Regions from separate parts of the Homo sapiens genome. Here all the other regions are linked to region 2. Evidence: fine-mapped expression QTL. A gene starts in region 2. Each other region holds a variant in brackets. All regions are shown on one strand. Distances are between the middles of the regions. Region 1 overlaps LOC102723341 (a long non-coding RNA gene). Region 2 holds the start of RNF217-AS1 (RNF217 antisense RNA 1). Region 3 overlaps RNF217 (ring finger protein 217).

Evidence for each region. PIP is the estimated chance that this variant, and not a neighbour inherited with it, causes the effect.
Region 1: its variant is fine-mapped to the expression of RNF217-AS1 in esophagus muscle (GTEx, PIP above 0.99).
Region 3: its variant is fine-mapped to the expression of RNF217-AS1 in skeletal muscle (FUSION, PIP 0.95).

The regions. Positions count from the first base shown.
Region 1 is chr6:125,397,855-125,406,140 of GRCh38, reverse strand. The region is part of intron 1 of LOC102723341 (a long non-coding RNA gene); the gene reads left to right. Among named protein-coding and RNA genes, the nearest start is that of HDDC2, 100 kb to the right of the region's middle. The variant T/C (reference allele first, on the strand shown) is at 4,663.
Region 2 is chr6:124,958,237-124,966,467 of GRCh38, reverse strand. It overlaps RNF217-AS1 (RNF217 antisense RNA 1), which reads left to right and starts at 3,441. Exons shown (of 7, transcript NR_026876.1): 1 at 3,441-3,645. It overlaps RNF217 (ring finger protein 217), which reads right to left and starts at 4,031. Exons shown (of 6, transcript NM_001286398.3): 1 at 3,042-4,031. The coding sequence starts at 3,923.
Region 3 is chr6:124,990,271-124,998,270 of GRCh38, reverse strand. The region is part of intron 1 of RNF217 (ring finger protein 217); the gene reads right to left. Among named protein-coding and RNA genes, the nearest start is that of RNF217-AS1, 31 kb to the right of the region's middle. The variant C/A (reference allele first, on the strand shown) is at 3,509.

The DNA.
Region 1 (8,286 bases), 440 kb before region 2:
TGACATTTATTTATGTCTTGTACTGGAATTGGGGAAACTATTTGTTTTGAACTAGGAATTGGATTTTAGACAGAAGAAAGGTATCGGTATAAACAGTTTCATTTTTGGACAAAATGTGCAAAATGTATATTCATTAGGAATCAGTATTCAGACCTTCTCTGATCTTTATTAATTGTTGTAGCGCACCAAGTTGGTAAATTAAGTTATTCTTGGAAATGAAAGCCCACATTGGAGGATAAAAATCATGAGAAACATTTAATAAAAGTATGCAATTTATAGAAATACAGCAAAAAATAATCAGTGTGAGCCATTGTAAGATAATATATTTTAGAGAAAAAACATTTTTAAGTTAATTATGATTATTGTCTCTAAGCTACCAAAGCAACTATATGCTAGCAACTGACATAATTATTGCAGACTGTTCTCAACATCCTTCCATGACCAAAAAAAGCTGAGCAACATTGTCTGGTATGAATCAGATACAGAAACACACTGCCACCACCCACATATATGTTATCCCTTTCCTTACACAAAACCTGGTGAGTTCATACTGGATTATGATGTCTTGATTGATACACCTGACAAAAGACATGATAGAGCTAGAGAAGAACCAAAGGAAAGTAAAAAATATTCAATCTATGGAAGATTTTAATACCAAGAGAAAGTAAAAATAATTAAAATAAATGGACATTCATCTCAAAAGACATAGGGAAAGAGGACACATTTCACTGGCAACTCTTAGAAAAAAACACTTTTAAGAGGTAACAAACTAGCTGTCTTAAACCAGCAGCCATCTTTGTACTTAATGATGCCCTATTATGGGCATTCTCATTAAAAACTAGAACAACTTAAGGACAGTTACCCTAACCATTGTCATTTTTTGTGTGTTCTTGGATTTGCAGCCTATGCAATGAGAGAGGAAATAATCACAAAAGTAATAATTTTGGAATGAAGACAACTTTGTTGGTTTACTCTCTGCCATCTCCTGTCCTGAAGTTAAAAACTGCTGGAGAAAAGCATACAGCCGTGATGACTGTTCTTAGTTAAAATTTTTGCTCACTAATCTCCAGTGGTAGTTTAATGCTGCCCTAAAATTTTTATATATTTACAAATTTCATTCACTTTACCACTTTTCTAGATGATTATTTACATGTTCTGCTCTTGCTGAAATCTTTAATACCTCCTTTCCATGTCATTTTCAGGCTATTTCACTGAACTGAAGCAGTCAAAAGAGAATGCTCATGAGATCCCATCACCACCACTTTACCGAACTACTTCCATATGTGACTATTTACTCTTTCTTCTTTTCTATTATTATTGATGAACTGGCCATGTACCTAGCTAAGGTGGATCCTGCCACTTAGATATTAGATCTTATCTACCCTTTCTCACTCTGAAATATTGTTCCAAGAATTCTTTTCTTGTATCATTACTTTTCCCTGTTTACTAGTGTAATAAGTATAGAAATATGCTGTTATTTTCCCATATTAAAAATTCTCTTGAGTAGGAAGCTCAATATAGTAAAGATGTTAATTCTTTCTCAAATTGATATAAATTTATCAAATCAATTATTTATTAATTTAAATTGATCTACATTCCTCCCAAATTGGTCAGCATTCTAAAAATATCAACATTATGTGTGTACGTAAAGAGATAAGATGTTTCTGAAGTTTAATGAAATTGAATGGGACTTGAAGAACAGAGTTCAAGGAATTGCACTATTGAATATGAAAATCTATTCAAGATGAAGAGTGTTGGAGGAATTACATGATGGATGTTAAGATTTGTTATAAAGTTGCAAGACTAATAATGCTATAAAAAGTAGTCTTCAACCAGGTGCAGTGGATCACATCTGTAATCCCAGCACTCTGGGAGGCCATGGCAGGCAGATCACTTGAGGTCAGGAGTTCAAGACCAGCCTGGCCAACATGGCAAAACTCCTCTCCATAAAACATACAAAAATTAGCCGGGTGTGGTGGCACGTGCTTGTAATCCCAGCTACTTGAGAGGCTGAGGCATGAGAATCGCTTGAACCTGGGAGCCAGAGGTTGCTGCGAGCTGAGATTGCACCACTGTGCTCCAGCTTGGACCACAGGGCAAGACTCCATCTCAAAAATAAGAAAAAAAAAAAAAAGGAAACAAAAAGTAATCTTCCAGATTAACAGAGCTGCAAGAATTGCATTGCCAAATATTATGACTTATAATTTACAGAAATTGAGATGGTCAGATATTTGTGTAAGAATAGACAGGTTAATGAAACAGAACATGAAATACAGACAAATATTCACATGTATATGGTCACTTGATTTTTGACAAAAGTATCACTGCAGTGTATAAAGGAGGTTCTTTTTCATAAATGGCATTGAATCAACTATATGCTCATATTGTAAAAATGACTCCTAGCTCACACCATATACTAAGTCTCTTCCAGATGAACTGTACTCTTTCCCGTTTCAGTTAATGGACACTATGTCCTTCCAATTGCTCAGAACAAAATTTTTGGAGTCATCCCAATCCCTCTTTTTCTCTTTTATTTCACACTGAATACATTGGCAAATTATTTCAGGTCTTCCTTATAGTGTATCCAGCATTAAATCAATTATCACCATTTTAAGACTATGTGTTGGTCCTAGGTATTATTTATTCTGTCTTGCCTAGATTATTACAACAACCTCTGTGTTAGTTGGGTTCCTCCAAAACCTGACTCTAAGAGGGTAATCCCAGGAAGCATGGTAGGATAGTGGGAGAGTGTAATAGGAAAAGCCGATGAAGCGTGCATGGATGAGTGAGTTAATGCTGTTTGACACTGAAGGCTAGTTCTACAGGGCACCCTCTAATAGACTATATAGAAAACACGTCAGAATTGTCTCACTGAGGAAAATTGGAGTCTTTAGGCACCAACTCTCTTCCGAACTTGGTAAGGGTCAGTTCTAGGCATACGTCCCTGGCACTTTCGTGCTCACTGCTTTTCAGGCAGAGAAAAAGGAAGCAGTTAATATACGTGGGGATTGTCTACATACAGGTGTCTCAGGGTGAACCAAGGCTATAGGAAGGGGTGACTACAACTTCTACTCTACTTTCCAACTGGTCTTACTTCTGTCCTTTTAAATCTGGTCTTAACACAGTCAGAACCACAGAATCTATGGCATCTCATGCCACTTTTATGCTGAAAATCATCCAACATCTCCCCAAATCACTCCAAGTAAAAACTCTAAATACCATCCATAAGAACCTCCAAAATCTGATCTTTCATTACATTAAAAATATTTTATATATGACTATTCTGTTTCAGATTTGCTCTGAGTTCCTTAGTCAGAAGTTACTCTTTTAGTGAGGCCCTCTACTCCAAAAATTTCAACACCCACTCTTGTTATTTTATATGCCTCTTCTCTGCTCAATTGTTCTTCCTTTGCTTTAAGCACCATTTATCCTAGTTTATACATTATTTTTGTAAAATTTGGTTTATTGCTCTTCTCTCCTGCTGGAACTATAACCTCCATAATCTGTTTTGGGTCTTTTTGTTGTTTTTCATTTTTTGATTGCTTCAGTACTGTATTCTCAGTGCTTATTAAGTTTGGCTGACACATAGTAGATACTTACTTGTCATTGAATTAATAATGTAATTTGTATATAATATGATTTTCTTTTGACAAAATCCAAGATAAGCTAATAATTAATAAAATATGCTTGTAAGAAGCAGTTACAAGGCATAATAAAAATATTAGGCCTAATAAAAATCTAATAATCTAATTGTTAAAAGATCTAGTAATACTTTGTCAAGAAATGTCTGAGTTTATGCTAAGAGAACAAATATTTACTGAGCTATAAAAGAAGGTTTTACGATATGGAGAAATATACCATATTTCATGGAAAATGAAACATGAAATATGTTTTTCTTTCTTTTTTATTATTATACTTTAAGTTCTAGGGTACACGTGCACAATGTGCAGGTTTGTTTCATATGTATACATGTGCCATGTTGGTGTGCTGCACCCATTAACTCGTCATTTACATTCGGTATATCTCCTAATGCTATCTCTCCCCCCTCCCCCCACCCCACAACAGGCCCCAGTGTGTGATGTTCTCCTTCCTGTGTCCAAGTGTTCTCATTGCTCAATTCCCACCTATGAGTGAGAACGTGTGGTGTTTGGTTTTTTTTGTCCCTGTGATAGTTTGCTGAGAATGATGGTTTCCAGTTTCATCCATGTCCCTACAAAGGACATGAACTCATCCTTTTTATGGCTGCATAGTATTCCATGGTGTGTGTGTGCCACATATTCTTAACCAGTCTATCACTGATGGACATGTGCGTTGGTTCCAAGTCTTTGCTATTGTGAATAGTGCCGCAATAAACATACGTGTGCCTGTGTCTTTATAGCAGCATGGTTTATAATCCTTTGGGTATATACCCAGTAACGGGATGGCTGGGTCAAATGGTATTTCTAGTTCTAGATCCTTGAGGAATCGCCACACTGTCTTCCACAATGGTTGAACCAGTTTACAGTCCCACCAACAGTGTAAAAGTGTTCCTATTTCTCTATATCCTCTCCAGCACCTGTTGTTCCCTGACTTTTTAATGATCGCCATTCTAACTGGTGTGAGATGGTATCTCATTGCAGTTTTGATTTGCATTTCTCTGATGGCCAGTGATGACGAGCATTT[T/C]TTCATGTGTCTGTTAGCTGCATAAATGTCTTCTTTTGAGAAGTGTCTGTTTATATCCTTCGCCCACTTGTTGTGGGGTTGTTTGTTTTTTTCTTGTAAATTTGTTTGAGTTCATTGTAGATTCTGGATATTAGCCCTTTGTCAGATGAGTAGATTGCAAAAATTTTCTCCCATTCTGTAGGTTGCCTGTTCACTCTGATGGTAGTTTCTTTTGCTGTGCAGAAACTCTTTAGTTTAATTAGATCCCATTTGTCAATTTTGGCTTTTGTTGCCATTGCTTTTGGTGTTTTAGACATGAAGTCCTTGCCCATGCCTATGTCCTGAATGGTATTGCCTAGGTTTTCTTCTAGGGTTTTTATGGTTTTAGGTCTAACATTTAAGTCTTTAATCCATCTTGAATTAATTTTTGTATAAGGTGTAAGAAAGGGATCCAGTTTCAGCTTTCCACATATGGCAAGCCAGTTTCCCAGCACCATTTATTAAATAGGGAATCCTTTCCCCATTTCTTGTTTTTGTCAGGTTTGTCAAAGATCAGGTGGTTGTAGACATATGTGGTATTATTTCTGAGGGCTCTGTTCTGTTCCATTGGTCTATAGCTCTGTTTTGGTACCAGTACCATGCTGTTTTGGTTATTGTAGCCTTGTAGTATAGTTTGAAGTCAGGTAGCGTGATGCCTCCAGCTTTGTTCTTTTGGCTTAAGATTATCTTGGCAATGTGGGCCCTTTTTCGTTCCACATGAACTTTAAAGTAGCTTTTTCCAATTCTGTGAAGAAAGTCATTGGTAGCTTAATGGGGATGGCATTAAATCTATAAATTACCTTGGGCAGTATGGCCATTTTCATTATATTGATTCTTCCTATCCATGAGCATGGAATGTTCTTCCATTTGTTTGTGTCCTCTTTTATTTCGTTGAGCAGTGGTGTGCAGTTCTTCTTGAAGAGGTCCTTCACATCCCTTGTAAGTTGGATTCCTAGGTATTTTATTCTCTTTGAAGCAATTGTGAATGGGAGTTCACTCATGATTTGGCTCTCTGTTTGTCTGTTATTGGTGTATAAGAACGCTTGTAATTTTTGCACATTGATTTTGTATCCTGAAACTTTGCTGAAGTTGCTTATCAGCTTAAGGAGATTTTGGGCTGAGACAATGGGGTTTTCTAAATATACAATCATGTCATCTGCAAACAGGGACAATTTGGCTTCCTTTTTTCCTAATTGAATACCCTTTATTTCTTTCTCATGCCTGATTGCCCTGGCCAGAACTTCCAACAGTATGTGCGATAGGAGTGGTGAGAGAGGGCATCCCTGTCTTGTGCCAGTTTTCAAAGGGAATGCTTCCAGTTTTTGCCCATTCAGTATGATGTTGGCTGTGGGTTTGTCATAAATACCTCTTATTATTTTGAGATACGTCCCATCAATACCTAATTTATTGAGAGTTTTTAGCATGAAGGGCTTTTGGATTTTGTCAAAGGCCTTTCCTGCATCTATTGAGATAATCATGTGGTTTTTGCCTCTGGTTCTGTTTATATGCTGGATTATGTTTATTGATTTGCATATGTTGAATCAGCCTTGCATCCCAGGGATGAAGCCCACTTGATCATGGTGGATAAGCTTTTTGATGTGCTGCTTGGATTATCAAAAATAAAATTGAGGATTTTTGCATTGATGTTCATCAGGGATATTGGTCTAAAATTCTCTTTTTTTTGTTGTGTCTCTGCCAGGCTTTGGTATCAGGATGATGCTGGCCTCATAAAATGACTTAGGGAGGAGTCCCTCTTTTGCTATTGATTGGAATAGTTTCAGAAGGAATGGTACCAGCTCCTCCTTGTACCTCTGGTAGAATTCGGCTGTGAATCCTTCTGGTCCTGGACTTTTTTTGGTTGGTAGGCTATTAATTATTGCCTCAATTTCAGAGCCTGTTATTGGTCTATTCAGGGATTCAACTTCCTCCTGGCTTAGTCTTGGGAGGGTGTATGTGTCCAGGAATTTATACATTTCTTCTAGATTTTCTAGTTGATTTGGGTAGAGGTGTTTATAGTATTCTCTAATGGTAGTTTGTATTTCTGTGGGATCAGTGGTGATATCCCCTGTATCAGTTTTTATTGCATCTATTTGATTCTTCTCTTTTTTCTTCTTTATTAGTCTTGCTAGCAGTCTATCAATTTTATTGATCTTTTCAAACAACCAGCTCCTGGATTCGTTGATTTTTTGAAGGGTTTTTTGTTTCTCTATCTCCTTCAGTTCTGCTCTGATCTTGGTTATTTCTTGCCTTCTGCTAGCTTTTGAATGTGTTTGCTCTTGCTTCTCTAGTTCTTTCAATTGTGATGTTAGGGTGTCAATTTTAGATCTTTCCTGCTTTCTCTTGTGGGCATTTAGTGCTATAAATTTCCCTCTACACACTGCTTTGAATGTGTTCCAGAGATTCTGGTATGTTGTGTCTTTGTTCTCATTGGTTTCAAAGAATATCTTTATTTCTGCCTTCATTTCGTTATGTACCCAGTAATCATTCAGGAGCAGTTGTTCCGTTTCCATGTAGTTGAGCAGTTTTGAGTGAGTTTCTTAATCCTGAGTTCTAGTTTGATTGCACTGTGGTCTGAGAGAGAGTTTGTTATAATTTCTGTTCTTTTACATTTGCTGAGGAGTGCTTTACTTCCAGCTATGTGGTCTATTTTGGAATAAGTGCGATGTGGTGCTGAGAAGAATGTATATTCTGTTGATCTGGGGTGGAGAGTTCTGTAGATGTCTATTAGGTCTGCTTGGTGCAGAGCTGAGTTCAAATCCTGGATATCCTTGTTAACTTTCTGTCTCATTGATCTGTCTAATGTTGACAGTGGGGTGTTAAAGTCTGCCATTATTATTGTGTGGGAGTCCAAGTCTCTTTGTAGATCTCTAAGGACTTGCTTTATGAATCTGGGTGCTCCTGTATTGGGTGCATATATATTTAGGATAGTTAGTTCTTCTTGTTGAATTGATCCCTTTTCCATTATGTAATGGCCTTCTTTGTCTCTTTTGATCTTTGTTGGTTTAAAGTCTATTTTATCAGAGACTAGGATTGCAAACCCTGCTTTTTTTTTGTTTTCCATTTGCTTGGTAGATCTTCCTCCATCCCTTTATTTCGAACCTATGTGTGTCTCTGCACATGAGATGGGTCTCCTGAATGCAGCACACTGATGGGTCTTGACTCTTTATCCAATTTGCTAGTCTGTGTCTTTTAATTGGAGCATTTAGCCCATTTACATTTAAGGTTAATATTGTTATGTGTGAATTTGACCCTGTCATTATGATGCTAGCTGGTTATTTTTCTCGTTAGTTGATGCAGTTTCTTCCTAGCATTGATGGTCTTTGCAATTGGGCATATTTTTGCAGTGGCTGGTACCAGTTGTTCCTTTCCATGTTTAGTGCTTCCTTCAGGAGCTCTTTTAGGGCAGGCCTGGTGGTGACAAAATCTCTCAGCATTTGCTTGTCTGTAAAGGATTTTATTTCTCCTTCACTTATGAAGCTTAGCTTGGCTGGATATGAAATTCTGGGTTGAAAATTCTTTCTTTTAAGACTGTTGAATTTTGGCCCCCACTTTCTTCTGGCTTGTAGAGTTTCTGCCAAGAGATCCGCTGTTAGTCTGATGGGCTTC
Region 2 (8,231 bases):
CTGTCAAACCTAAGAGACCTTTTAAGATGAGAAAGAAAGCACTCACTATGCCCTTTTGATGTGGTTCAGTAGGGCAACAAAATAACCATGCAGTTTGACTTTGTTTTGCTTTGGAACTGGTGGGTTATTACAGGTTGTCTGCAATTACATTTCATTGATGAGGAAATTAAGGCATAGAGAGGTTAAGTGACAGAGAAACACAACCTTTGAGTAGAGGGACCATAGAATTGACACAGATCAAAAATATTACAACCACAATCCTGTATTTTTAACCAACTAAAAAAGGCTATTTTATGTATAAGCTCAAAGTTTATCTAAGCTCTTAAATTCTAAGTTTAATAACCAACTTAGCAAACCTGTTACTTTTGTCCGCTTTAAGCCCTTTGTCTTTTGTCTTAAGTATCAAGAAGCTCAGAATAGAATTTAGTGCCAATGCAGAACACCACTTCCTAGCCTTGGTTTCTGGGGCAATCTCAGGCCTTTCAAAAATTCAGTAGGTTTTAGTTGCCCATCTGTTATATACCAGACAACGCTGTAGATGCTAAAGATACAGACCTGTACAAATAATGTGAAAACTTCTGTCTTGACTTAATTACTTAAGTGTAAGACAGAGTATGTTAGTGCTATGGAGAAAATAAAAAGCAGGAAAAAAGAGAGAGAGCGTGGGGTGAGGCTCAATTTTTAAAAGGGTGGTCAGTGAAAGTCACAGGGCATGACATTTGAATATAGCCCTGAAAAGGAGTGCAGTGAGCAGATAAGAGGGCCATGGAGGGAACCTTCCTGGAACAGGGAAAACCAAGTACAAAAGCCCTGAGGTGAAAGCATGCCCGGTATCTATGACTCATCTTTTTGTTGCTGTTTATTATTTTAAATAATGTATATTCTTCTTTTTTTTTGAGAGGAGTCTCACTCTGTTGCCCAGGCTGGAGTGCAATCATGTGATCTTGGCTCACTGCAACCTCTGCCTCCTGGGTTCAAGTGATTCTTCTGCCTCAGCCTTCCAAGTAGCTGGGATTACAGGCATGCGCCACCATGCCCAGCTAATTTTGTATTTTTAGTAGAGACGGGGTTTCACCATGTTGGTCAGGCTGGTCTTGAACTCCCGATCTCAGGTGATCCACCTGCCTCAGCCTCCCAAAGTGCTGGGATTACAGGCGTGAGCCACCGCACCCGGCCAATAATGTGTATTATTATTTATTGAAAGTCCCAGCAAATACTTTGGAAGAAGGTCAGGCACATACATACAATCAGAAATGCTGCAGACAAGCTTCAGATACTGTGTCACTGCAGAGGAGTTTTTAGTGGTTGTACTGTACACTGCAATGACCACTTGACTATGTCCCTCTGTCTCCCTACTACCATTACTAAAACTTCCTAAAACTAACTTATGAGGTTTAATAAAGAAAAAGAAAACTGCTTTGGGGAAAGGGCCCACCATAAGGAAATCAAACTGCTAGGTAAAGTACCCCAAGCCACAATGACTACCTCCCTTGAATTTCTGGAATGTGTATCCAGCATTTAACAGGAAGTGCTATCTGGAATTGTTACTCTATTGACATCTCATCCCATGCTACCTTGTATTGTTCTTTTGTACACATCTGCTCTCACAGTGACTTCCCTGGAGGCGGGCTTATATTTTGGAAATGTCTGAATCCCATCGCAGGGCAGCGAAATCTGTTTTGAGGATGATGATACAGAAACTACCACAACCAGCAGCAGACATTCCTCCTGTTTTAAGAATCTCTGTAGATAAAGCATGAAAGAAACAACAGTCTCTCAGAGGCTTTTAAATAATCCCAACTATTTTAGCCAACTTACTGTTTATGTAACATACCGTTTTAAGTCTTTGTTTGCATTTTTAGTTAGGGACTGTACACACTTTCAGTCTAGACCCAAGCATGAGTTAGCCAAAAAACATAGAGGAATCACATGGTACGGAGCCCTGTTCAGTTTGTCCCAGCCAATGTTATTAAAAACACTATGATGGGCAAGGGACTCAACATGAAGCTACCACATATGGGACTCTAAGACATTGTCCAGACAGTCTAACAAGACAAGCAGACACGAAAGAAACAACTTCAGTGCATGTAAGATAATATAAGATACTGTGAAAGTATATAAGCAGTGACTTGGAGGGTGAGGCAACGCTTCACAGAAGAGTTGGCACCTGAACACACAGGGTTTTGAAAGATGAATAGGCCTAGGACAATTGGACACAGGATCAAAGGGCATCCAGGATTGTGCAAAACACTGGCAGAAACATCACAGATTGAAAACTGCTGGAAGAACGCATTCACCGTCAGTGAAGGAAAGCTGGTCTGGTGCACTCTCAAGCTTTCCAAGAAAAAAAACCAAGTTTTCAAATAAAAGCAGAGGAGGAAAGTTTCACCAGTGCTTGTTCTGAGAAACCTCTTAGCCTCTCTTTGCTTTGTTTTGCTCTTTCTGTTTTGCTTCCCTCTTAAAGAGTGCTGGCTTAAAACCTCAGTGAAAGAAAAGTACTTCAACTTTACTGTGGAAAAAGGAAACTGAAAAGTAGGCAAAGGCCAAGGGATACATTTTTTTAAACATTCACTCTTTCCTGGAATATACAAATGAAGCAAAATTACAAATTCATGTATTATGGGTCTGAAATATTTATTCCAATTCTTTTCTCCACCAGCTCCATAAATATTTATTCTATGCCCACTGCTTGTTAGTTTCTGGGATACCAGGCCGATGAGGCAGTCTCTTCCTCTCCTCCTTTGAGCAAGCTTGTGCTTGCAATCCTGTATAAGAAATAAGAGGAGGGCAACAACTTGTATCTTGTGCCTTCTACACATGCCAACCATAGCCTGAAGTTCACAGCAAAGTTAAATTCCAGTTAAGTAAACCAGTGAGGTCATAATACACTTAAATAACAACTGAGACGTGAGAAACTAACAGAGATCCTCAGTAAGTGTGTCGGTCACCTCTTCGCGCGAGCAGGGAGATCAGATCGAGAGCAGGACCTCCTCGCCAGTGATTTGGAATGATAAATGGGGAAGAGAAGGGGGTGAAGTTACCTGGGCGCTCAGGTAGACTTTGAGGCACTCCTCGCACACGGCCTTCTTGCAGCAAGGCAGGGGCTTGATGGGCTTGTCTTCCAGGCACACCCGGCACATCAGCACCATGAGGGGCACATAGGGATCCCCTACACCGCCCAGGCCAGAGTAGGGTGGAGCTCCCAACAGGCTGGGCATGGAGAACGGCTCGGGCGCCAGGTAGAACTCCAGCTCGATGCTGCCGCCGTCGGGGGAGAGGGAATCCGTTGGGAGGGACAGTCGGGGGCTGGGGAAGGAAGAGCGGGTGCTGGGAGGGTTCAACACTGGCGGAGCCCCAGGTGGCGACGCGGGCGGCGAGAGCTGCTCCGAGGCGGGGGCCTCGGGCAGGTCGCTCTCCACGCAGTACACGGAGCAGAAGACTTGTCTCTTGGCGAGGGACGGGCGCCGCTGACCCAGCACGTCCAGGACCAGTCCGTCGGCGGCCCCCACGCGGGTCCTGGGCTCCAGCTCTTCGCCGGGGGGCGCCTCCTGCTGTTCATCCCCTCCCTCTTTTCGATCCCCAGCTTCCTCCTCTTCCTCCTCCAGCTCCAACTGCAGTGGCAAGGTCTGGGGATTGAGAGGCCCGGTGAGTGCCAGTCCCGCAGGCTGCGCCGGTGCTCGGCTCTTACTCCAGCCCGGGGGCCCCAGGCTCCTCGCGGGCTCTGGGGCGCTGGTGTCCGCGCAGCCCCAGTCGCTTCCGCAGCCACCGCCGCTCGGCTCCGCGGAGGCGGCGCGCAGCGGGGGCGCCCGGGCGCTGTCCCCCTGAGGCCTCGGGGGCTCAGGGTGGCCCGCAGTGCCACTGGCCAGGGTCTGCGACTCCTGGGGCCCGCCGCCGCCGCTCACCGTGCTCTGCTCCTCGCCCATCGCCGCCCGCGGCCCGCGCCGCCGCTGCCCATCCAGCCGCCGGGACCCCCACCCGGCGCCCGCGGGCAGCGGGGGCAGTGGCTCGGCTCGACTCGCGGCTCCGCTTCTGCTTCCGGGTCCTTCCTCCTGGGCTGGGACGCCCCAAGTCCCCTCCGGGGAGCCCGTGCTCCGAGGCTGCGGCGCGTGGGGAGCCTGGCCCGGCCCGCCGCTCCTCCTCGTACTCTGGCGCGGCGGGGCACCGCCTCGGGGGCGCCGAGGGCCGCTCGCTCTGGGCTCGGGCGCGCCCGCCCCACATGCAGCTCGGGGCGGCGCCGCAGCCCCAGCGAGCCCCAGGCGGGACAGAGGGGTCTGGGAGGAGACGGCCGTCAGTCCCGCGCCATCACCGGTCCCGGCTGCCGGACGCGCGGCCCGAGGGCGGTGGTCAAAGGGTCGAGGGGCCTGTGGCGCCGCCGCGGCGCGCACCAGGAGGTGCAGCCGGAGCGCTGGCCAGCCGCAGGGCCCCTGGGGGAGAGGCCGGAGCGGGCGACCTCCCTCTCCCCGCGCTTCACCTACAGCCCTCCTCGCCGCCCCTCACCCCACCCCTTTGGCGCACACCTCCCCACACGTACACACGCGCGCAGGCACCCGCGCACACACACACGCACACCCTGAGTGGGTGTGATCTAAGAGCTGAGATGCGCTTTCTCGCCCGGAGTTCACACTCAGCCTCAACAAAACCCTCAGAGCAGGCAGGCTCCCCTTTGGTCTCCGCATTCAGTAGAACTTCCTACAAAACTACACTCAGCTCTGGAATTAGTAAACGCTGGCTATTTAGGATGTCGAGTTCAGAGAAATAATGCTAAGGATTATGAATTCTAAATGCTGTATATTACAACTCTGTTTTTCTGCCTAGTGGAGTAGGAAGAATCTTCGAAACCCATAAATAATCGAAAAAGCACTTTCGATCTACTCCTCCAACTGGAATCCTTAGAAGAGTTGATAACTAATTTAAAATTTCTCTCTTTTTCTTCGCCTACAGTGTTCTCTTAGAAGTTTTTTTTTTTAACCCTTTTCAGCATTCCAAAATGGATAGCACAAGGTGGAAAAATGTCCTGACCTAATTAATAAACTGGATCATTAGTGGAAATCATGGGCAGTTTCATTAGCATAACCATATTTATCCTCAAAACTGTTTCCAAAACAACAATTATATGTGAGCCAGGACTTAATTATGTGTTGATCTATCTTTATTTTACAGGAAGTATTACTCACCCAGACACTGGTGTTTTAGTTCCCTAAAGCCAGTGAAAACATTTTTGGGAAGCCAGCCCTTGTTTTGTTTTTTTTCTCCTGAGAGGGAATTCAATTTACACATTCATGTAATAGCAAGGAACTGTAAAGTGTGTAGAATTTTATTTTTTAATCTCGAAGTTGTTATTGGGTTGTTCTAAAATATTTTCCAAATCAGATGCAAATGATACAAAGGTGACTAGCGATGCAAACTAAGAAAGCAGTGTAATGCCAAAGAACATTTCCATCATATATGTGTGTCTGAGGCTCAGTTGCAAGCAAAGGTATGAATTGGATGTCTAAATGCCATGTCATCTATCGGTCTGACCCAAGAATGGAAAATTCTTATTTTGAAGATTAAATGCTATTCGAGGATTCTTTTCTTTTTTATCTCAGCTAAGTGATTTCCTGGTAACTGCTGTTTTCTCCAAATGATACTTTAAGTGCTTATTGTTTTAAAGACAGAGACAAGAAACCTACTTATGTGTGCCTTTTGAGTGTGCCATCTGATGACCAAGCCACTATTCTTTCCAGAGATATAAAAGTAATCTGCATTTTCCAGGTGACAACAGGCTAAGACCAGAGTAACAATAATGGATGCCAAAAAGTATATTCCCACAGCGTCTATTGGAATAAAACCCCTCAAAGTCCTCTTATAGTTTTGGGAACCCCTCCTCACACACATTTTTCACTCGTATTCTGAGAACTTGTTCTTCCAGTGTTTACCATTTTATTCCTTATCCCTTAGGTTCCAGCTTACTGGAAGTGGCTGTCCTCTACACCAAACCCATTAGAAGTCCCTGCTGGGACTCATGATGGCCGCCCATATCTCTGCTGCTTAAAACTGCAGCCCTTTATTTTGCCATGACTTCTTCCCTACAGAATTCATTGGGCCTTTGTGAAAATAGAATAATATGTGGTTCCCTATTTCCACCCTCCAAATTGGCCCAAACTTGCCTGAATCCTTGACCCACCACCCCTGGCATTCAATCTAGTGCTCATGGGACTCCAGCAGCATGGAAGTGAATTAAATTGAAAAGTTAACATCGTGGTTCCACAATGAATTTTCTCTGAAGTGCATGAAGCACCAGTAATGATTGTTTCGATGGGATTAATTATTTAAAGAAGGATTGGTTGAAAATATTTTATTAACCAATATTTAATATTTTAGCAAAAATTCCATTTATCTGCCACAAGCTTAATATTCTCAAAACTCAAACCATCTGCTCCATCTCAGGTTGTACACAACTGTTGATACAACGTAAGTACTATCACTAATATCCTGCTCCTACCAACATAAAGCCTCAAAATGTCCTAATCTGCAGTGAACTGTGTACCTTCCCTAAAATCCAGACTTCAATATCAGAAAACTATGTCAGTTTTAGAATGCTGTTTTTTCTATTATTGCCTTTCTTATCCTGGCATTAAAACATGACTTCTTTTTGGCTCCCTTCAATTTTTTTAAATCATTTTTATTAATGCATAATATTTGAACATATTTGTGGGATATATGTGATATTTTGATATATGCATACCATGTGTGATGATCAAATAAAGGTACACAGGATATTCATCACCTTGAACAGTTATCATTTCTTTGTGTTGGAAACATTTCAAATATTCTCTTCTAGCTGTTTTAAAATATACAATATATAGCTATAGTCAGCCTACTGTGCTATTGAACACTAGAACTTAGTCCTTCTATCTAAGTATATGTTTGTATACATATAACCAACTTCTCTTCATCTGCCCCTGTGTTTCCAGCCTCTGGGAACTATCATTCTCCTTTCTACTTCCATGAGATCAACTTTTTAAACTCCCATATATCAAGAACATGTGATATTTGTCTTTCTGTGCCTGCCTTATTTCACTTAACATAATGATCTCTAGTGCCATCCATGTTGCTGTAAATGACAAAATTTCATTTTTTATGGCTAAATAGTATTTTATTGAATATACATACCATATTTTCTTTATCCATTCATCTGTTGATAGACACTTAGGTTGATTCCATATCAACCTCTTGTAAATAGTGCTATAATAAATATAGGGGTGCAGATGTCACTTTGATTTACTGATTTCCTTTCCTGCTACTGGATAAATACCCAGTAATGAGATTGCTGGATCATATGGTAGTTATATTTTTAGTTTTTTGAGAAACTTCCAGACTATTTTCTATAATGACTATACATATTTATGTTCCCATCAAGAGTGTATAAAATTTCCCTCTTCTATGCATCCTGGCCACCTTTTGTTATTTTTTGTCTTTTTGATAATAGTCATTCTAACTGTGGTAAGATGATGTCTCATTGTGGTTTTGATCTGCATTTCTCTGGTGATTGATGATGCTGGGCATTTTTTAAATAAACTTGTTAGCCATTTGTATGACTTCTTTTGAGAAAGAAAGTCTATATAAAAGAAAGTCTTTTGAGTTGATTTTTGTGATCAACTGTGTGAGTGATAGGTGTCTAGTTTCATTCTTATGCATAGGGATTTCCAGTTTTCTCGGCATCATTTATTGAAGAGAATGTCTTTTCCCCAATGTTTATTCTTGGCACCTTTGTTGGAAATTAGTTGGCCATAAATATGTGGACTTAATAATATTTCTGGATTCTCTATTTTGTTTCATTGGTCTATGAGTCTGTCTGTTTTTATACAGACTTTCTTTTATACAGACAAGAAATGTCTGTTAATGTCCTTTGCCCAATTTTTAGTGCAATTATTATATATATTATACTGTTGAGTTTTTTGAGTTCCTTGTATATTCTGGGTATTAGTCCCTTGTGGGATGAATAGTTTGCAAATATTTCCTCCCATTCTGCAGTTTGTGTCTTTGCTCTCTTGATTGTTTCCTTTGCTGTGCATAAGTGTTTTAGTTTGCTCTAATCCCATTTGTCTATTTTTCCCTTTGTTGTCTTTGTTTTTGCAGTCTTAGTCATAAAATTATTGCCTAGACCAATCTCCTACAGCATTTCCCTTATGGCTTCTTGTAGTAGTTTTATAATTTCAGGATTTACATTTGTATTTAATCCTTTTTGA
Region 3 (8,000 bases), 32 kb before region 2:
AAATGACATACAAGGTGAATCCATGGGATAGGAGAATAGAGGGGCAAAATGAGGGAAGTAAAGTGTGAAAAAATAAGGTAACGGAGATGATGAAGATTTGAGGCTACGTGACTGGGAGAATGAAAATGCCCAGAGCTGAGAATAGAAATGACTGGAACATGAAAGGATGAAGTGGTGAATGGTCTGGAAGAAATATTAAAAGTTTGCTCTGAACATATATAATCTGAGGCATCTGAGGAGCCATGTCAATTAGGAGATGCCCCTTGCTCACAATCAGAAAAGGAATGCCGGAGTCAGGCAGACATTCAGGATTCAACATGGAAATTTTGGAGTCACCGTCACATAAGAACAGGTAAGGACAGTTCAAGCGGTGGGATCAGTAAGGTCAAAGGGATACTACAGGATGAAAAAATTAAAAGCAAGGCAGATATTGGAGAAATACATTAAGTTAGTAGAGTCTAGAAAAGCCTTTGAGGGAGAGACAACTAAAGGTGAGAAAGTAAAGAAAACAAGCAAGGGAAAGTGTTCAGGGCTGTAGAGAGAGCGAGCAGATTAAAGATGCAGGATTTACCCTGAAACTAGTGTCCAGGTATCTCATCGCCACAGGCTGTTTCCAAGGACCTATGAATGTGCTCAATGCGTCAGATGTTTTTGCAGGAGTGAGAGATTTAACTGTAATTGGTTAAGACCCCTGTCACTTTCCACTCTGACTTGCCCTTCATCAATGTGTCTGCTGTCATTACTACAGCTATGAGTGAACATTTTTCGGATTTGCCTAAGAAGTATTTGAGATGGGAATATATTAACTCGAGTTGTGTGAACCTGTCTATGTGATTTACAGTCACTTTCGCATATGGTTAAGTAATTGGCAGAGCCCTAGGGTAGGAATGATTTCCAGGAATATCTTCCATCCTTTTGTGCTGACTTACCTGGAGTCATGACTTAAGCACCAGGATTGTAATACAACATGTTCTATAAAGCTCAGGGTGGGGAACATGCGAGTAGTGAAGCAGCCATACATGCAAATACATGGAGCCGTGAACTCTTCTATAGAAAAATCCTTTCAATCATCACACAGAACATTTTAAACAGAGGATTCTCTTTTCTATGCCTGGTCAAAACAGAAATTCTCTTCTCATCAGTTTAACAAATGAATACACACCGGACCAAAACAGAAAATAAATTCTTTTTTGACAGAAATGATGAAAAAATAGACTCTACCAGCACGTCCGTGTTTGTAGAACCTAAACTTGCAGGAGTGCTACAAACAAGTCTGTGTGAAGAGGAACATATTTTATGCATCTCCACTGTCAATACTAAACCATATTAAGATGATTTAAAGAAAATACGGATCATTTTTATACTCCAACTTTCAAAATTACATTACAAAATTTTCATTATACAAAGGTAATCAGGCTTTATATAGTAAAAAATAGATAAGTAATATAAAGATATACAAGGCAGTTAAGAGGAATGTTATATTTTAAAACTGCAATATTTGTAGTATTTGGTAGCTTTTAAAATTTGTAATTGTTGTGACTTATAGTCTCATTGTAATCATTTACTTTTGCATCTAACTTTATATTCATAACTTAGTCTTAAAGAGTATGCTCACACTGTATATGCTTCAGGTTACACAAAACTTGACTCTTCCCCTCATTATGAAGTTTGCCTTCAAGAGCCAATGTCAACAGAGCTGTGGGGACAGAATTCAGATTGCAATGGATTAAAGATAATTAAAACTCTTCATAAAAGACATCATAAAAATAGAAAAAGAAAACCATGAATTGGTAGAAGATATCCACAACACACATTTAACTAACAAAAGATTAGTATTGAGGGTATAAAAAATAGAACTCCTATCAATCAGTAAGAGACAACCCAAGAAACAGAAAAATGGGCTAAAGATAAGAAAAAGCACATCAGAGAAAACATAAATTATCTTCAAAAATTAAAAAAATCTTCAAAATTAAAAATCTTCAAAAATAAAAAAAGCTCAAGCTAATTATAAATGAGGGTAATGAACACACAAAATCATGAGATGTTTATTCATACCCTGCAGACTGGCAAAACACTTAAATATACGATGAAGTACTGTTGAGGTTATGGAGCAATGGGAACTTTCATCAGCTGTGGAGCGAGTATCAACTGGCACAACCACTTTGGAAAACAATTTGGCAATACCAAGCCAGGTTAAAGATTCATGGCCTTGTGAAGCAACAAAACCTTTCCCAGATTTAAAAAATCTGGAAAAATTCCTATACATGTACATAGTCTGTAAGAGAAATAGAAAAAAAAAACCCAGAAATATTCCAAATGTTTTTCTTTTCTTGATTCTTTTTCTTTTTTGAGACAAGAGTCTTGCTCATCACCCAGGCTGGAGTGCAATGACACGATCTCGGCTCACTGCAACCTCCACCTCCTGGGTTCACATGATTCTCCTAGCTCAGCTTCCCGAGTAGCTGGGATTACAGAAGTCCATCACCACGCCCAGCTAATTTTTGTAATTTTAGTAGAGATGGGGTTTTGCCATGTTGGTCAGGCTGGTCTCGAACTCCTGACCTCAGGTGATCCACCCACCTCGACCTCCCAAAGTGCTGGGATTACAGGCATGAGCCACAGCACCCGCCCTCCAAATGTTTTTCAATAGGCAAAGTGTAAGTAAATCGGGTTATATTCATACAACAAACTCCAAAACAACAATGAAAAATGAACAAATTGCTGTCTCATATAAAAGAATCTCAAAATGTTAACTTTGAATAAAGTAAAAGTCCTATAAAAAACATACAAAGAATGTTTTCATTTTTATAAAAGTGATTAAAAATGTGCACAACTAAGCAACAGTGTTTAGGGATGCATACATTTGTAATGAAACTAAATTAATAAATAATTCAATAAAATCCAGGACATTGTTTAGCTCTGAATCAGAGTGCACAGTGTGTTTTGGATGGCACCAGGATGGCCTTCAATATTGTTACTGTTCTATTTTTTATGTGAGCTTTCATTTTATTATTGTTTTTAAAACTATAACCATGTGTTATATTCTTTTGTATGTATAATATTTCACAAAATAAAATCTGTAAAAGAGATTAGAGGCAATAAAAGTACACTAACTTTTAATAAAATATGGATGAAGAAGGTGGTGGTATAAATAACTGACAAACCACAAACATCTCCCTACTCAAGGGTACAAATATAGTCAACAATGAGAAATAATCTTGTTTTAATTTTTCTTAATAGAACTATAAATTATCCTTAGGTTAATACTTGGATACGTAACATCCCATTTTTACACAATATTAGTAGCCTGAATTTACAAAGTTGTCTATTCCTGGATCATAAAAAATTCTCGTAGTATACCTCAACTTTCTCAGTACTATCTCTTTTAGATGGTAAGCTCCAAATCCCAGAGCCTGCCAACAGTCAGCCACGGAGCTATAAAATTCAGGCTCAAGTAACAGGTGTACAGTTTTTCAAGTATAATTCTTACTCCTAAAAAAGATGAAAG[C/A]ATAGTTGGAAATATAATGCCATACAACTGCCTAAAGTAGCACTTACTAGCACAAAAGAAAACACTTGGGCAGCTCAGGATGTAGTAGTTTGAGGATATATACAAAAAGCAGGTTGTAGAAACTTTTGTATCTACCTAACATCATGCTAGTAACTAACTTTTTTTTCTCCAATTTGGGAGCAGCAAAGCAGCTGTGTATGGGAGAAAACAGATTCACACATCTGAAGTCAGAAGTCTGGACAGTCTTAGTTATTTCACTTACAAGTTTGTGAAGTCTACCATTCATGAGGCAACTGGAAATTTGAACACTGACTAGATATATAATGATATTAAGAAATGATTATTATTTAGGTGTAATTATGTCTCCGTTCAAAAGAATAAGTCCTCACTTTAGGGAGATACATACTGAAAGACTTGCAGATGAAATCACGTCAGGATTTTGCTTCAAAATAAGGAAGGGAAGGGGAAGTGAGTGGGAATAGATACGCAACAAAATAGTTCATAAGTCACTAATTGTTGTGGTTGTGTGACAGGCACATGGGGTTAGACTATTCTGCCTATATTTTAAAAATATGTTTAAACATTTATAAAACAAAAAGATACACACACATCCCTTATATACATATTTTTTTTTCTCTAGGCTAATATTTTAAAATTCCATTTTCTTCTAAACTTGCTTTTTCCTCTTCCTTCCATCATGACCCCTTCCCTCTTTCCAGTCCCTTCTCCACACTCCAGCCAGAGTAATTTGTTTTCTCAAATGCAAAATGTTGTTTCAATGACTTTCAATCACTGCCCACTACCTGCAGAATAAAGGCCTCAATTCCTTGTCATAGATTAATGGCTCGAATTCCCACTCACCTCTCCAGAGGATCTCCTGCTTCTACTGAGCCACTGCAATTCACTGAAGAAGTATGCTCTTTCAGCTGTGGCACTCTTAGCCCTGACACACTCTTTACGCAGCCCCTTCTTTATCTGGCTAACTCCTACTTACCCTTAGATCTCATCTGAGGCCTCACTATTCCTTACAAAACTCTCCCTGACAAACAGCTGGCCTACCCGGCCTTCCTATGTGCCGCCCAGCACCTGCACCTAGCTCTAATGTAGCACCTACTACACTGTAAGACAGGTGATTTTACTTATATATCTACCCGAATAGGCTACAATTCCCTGACTTAAAAACATGTCAGGTTCACCTTTGCACTGCCAAGATCTGGAATAGTGCGTGCCACAACTAGAAAGCCCTCAGTGAATATTTGCGCAACTGAGGAATGATCTTATTCTCTCATATTTCCTAAGCCTCTTCATCAAAGAAAGGAAAACCTAACCAAAGTTTGGTTAACAGATGGGCTAATGATAATAATTTTAGTGGAAAGGACGGGAGGGGAGGAGAAGATCTAATATTTACTTGTAATTACTATCTGCCAGTTATTGTTCTAGGCACTCTATTTATATTGTTCGCTTAGTCAGAAAACCCAAGATACTTGTAAAAATACAGATTCCTGGGACACATCCCAGAATTACTAAATCAGAATTTCTTGGGGCAAGACCTCAGGAATCTATTTTTTAATAGATGCCTCATGCGTTTCTGATAGTAAGTCAACTTTAGGCATAACTGGCCAGCAGTAGAGACCAAAAGAAAGTTCATATATCAAGTATATTTTACTATTTGAACTCAATTATTACAAAATGTTTTATTTGATTATGCTCTATAAATTTGCCAATAATACTACTATAGGCAAGAGCACTGACAGTTGTTTCTCAGTCTATAAAATGAACAAATATTCTATTACATTGGAAAATTTAGACAGCTTCATGGCAATGTCTTTTTCTGATATCTAAATGTAACATCATCAAAGACATAAATCGTTTTAGGTAAAAGATGAGTGGTCATCTGCATAAGCAACTAAGGATAAATTTATTAAATTTATTTAAAGTAAATTTATTACATTTACTAACTAGTAATTTATTAAAGTAATCCAATTACTTTACAATTAGAATTTGACAAAAAAAATCATTACAACAAAGAATGTTCTGCTAAAGAATTATTCTTTACAAAATTTGGAACAGAAAAATTCAATGTACTTTTATCATTCAAAAGATAGTACCATACTTTCCAAGATCAAATCCACATTCTGAAACAAAATGGAACAAGTCAATTTCAACAAGAAAAACCTCCCCTCTTCTCACTATTCTAAACTTTTATTATATAATACACTAGAACAAGCTAACCGAATCCAGTATCTTGCTATAGATGTTAGCAGAACAGCCATTACATCTACACAGCATTAGAAATATAAACCACAAACCAGCCTATGTCAAGTACATTCTTAAAATCAATGTTCTATAGCCTCTTAGTTTCTTATTTTCTCCTGCTTGACTATTATTTATCAAGTTTTCATTTGGGAATAGAAAACATGTTTTAATATATGTAGCTTTGTACAAAACCAGTATTTAAGGTTTCACCTAGTTTTATTAGGAAACATTATTCTAATTACAAAACATACCTTTGCGGTAAAAATGAATACATGTCCTACTTAAAATGTTAAAAGGAGTTATTCCTTAATATTTTAGAGCATTCTACAGCCTTGCTACTCAAAGTGTGATGCTGCAGGTCAGCATTACTGGCATTACTTTGTAGCTTGTTTGAATTGTAAAAGTATAGGCCCCATCTCAGGCTTAGTAAATCAGAATTTGCAATGTTAACAAGATCCCCAGGGCATTTATATGAGAAGGAATACTCTGTAATTTTCATAAATCATTTGAGTCCCCTGGGTTCAATATCAGTCATGGACTAATGACCTGTATGACCTTGGGGAATCCATGGGCCCAGGGCTGTCTAATAGAGCTTTCTGGTATGACAGAAAAGTGCTATACCTGAGTGGTCAAATACAGCAGCCACTGAACACAAGAGCCCTTAAAAGTTGCTACTAGGACTGAGGAACTAAATCTTTACTTAATTTTAATTTACATTTGAATAGTACCATGTGGCTATTAGCACAGGTTTAGAAACTATTTATAACATAAAATCCCTTCCAGCTCTAAAATCTTACAATTCTAGATATAGAAAAAATGATTTACAAAATTGTCTTCAAGATACTATTTAAAACAAATGTCTGTTGATCACCTACTACATGTCAAGCACTCAGGCCTCATGAATCAACAAAACCAAACAAAATTCTTATCCTCATGGCCTACAGCCTTGCGGGGAGAAAAAGACAACAAAAATGAATATAATAAATAAAACACATCATTATTAGAAGATAATAAAGCCATGAAAAAATACAGCAGATTAAACAAGGAAGAAGAATGCTGGTATGGGGGGGATGAGGGTTGGTAGCATGTATACATGGGTTGCTAAAAGAAGGCCACTAGGAGAAATTGATATTTGAGCACAGACTGGAAACAGATTAAGAGCTAGCCATGTAAATATTATGGGAAAGATGAACAGCTACTGGAAAGGTCCTAATGCAGACATGGGTTTGATGTGAGAAAGAGCAAAGAGTCCGAGAAGCTGGTTCTGAGTGAGCAATGGCAGGAGGAATAGAAAATGGAGTCAGAGAGGTCAGAAAGGAAACAGGGTGGGGGAACAGAGTCATGGATCACACAGGGAATTGCAGGCCACTGCAAGATCTTTGGCCTTTACTCTGAGGAGACATTGTAAAAGAGCAACATGTCAGGTCTTACATTTTTAAATGATCTCTCTGGCTTCACTGTGTCACCCAGGCTTTGCAGTGGTGTGATCTTGGCTCACTGCAACCTCAAAATCCTGGGGTCATGTGATCTTCCCACCTCCCTCTCGGGTAGCTAGGACTACAGGAATGAGCTACTGTGCCCAGCTAATTATTTATTTTTATTTTTGTAGAGATGGGGTCTTGCTTTGTTGCTCAGGCTGGTCTCGAACTCCTGGCCTCAAGTAATCCTCCCACCTCAGCCTCTCAAAGTGCTGGGATTACGGACGTAAGCCACCATGCCCAATTTGGCTTCACTCTTGAGATCACTCTACAAAGGTACTAGGGCAGGGAGAATAGTTAAGATTTTACTGCTAGATTCCTGGTGAGAATGATGGTGGCATGGTTCACAGTGGTAGCAGGGGAAATGGTGAGAAGTGGCTCAATTCTGGTTATATTTTAAAGGTAGATCTAACAATCACACATGAAAAATAAGAATGTGCTATGACAGAAAGAAGAGTCAGAGTTTATTCCAAAGTTCTGGTCTAAGCAACTGGAAAAATGGAATGGCCATCAACTGAAATGGTGAAAACTATAAATAAAACAGGTTTACAGGGAAATATAAAAGAACTGAGTTTTTGAGATGTCAAATTTGAGATATCTCTTATAAAATCAATTGCAGATATATTACATAGATGTATAAACAAGTCTGGAGTTCCATGAAACTGTCTGAGCTCGGGATATAAATTAGAAAGCCAGTGGCAGATACAGAATACTTACCAGAAATTGGATAAGATAATAAGAGTAGTGAGCATACATAG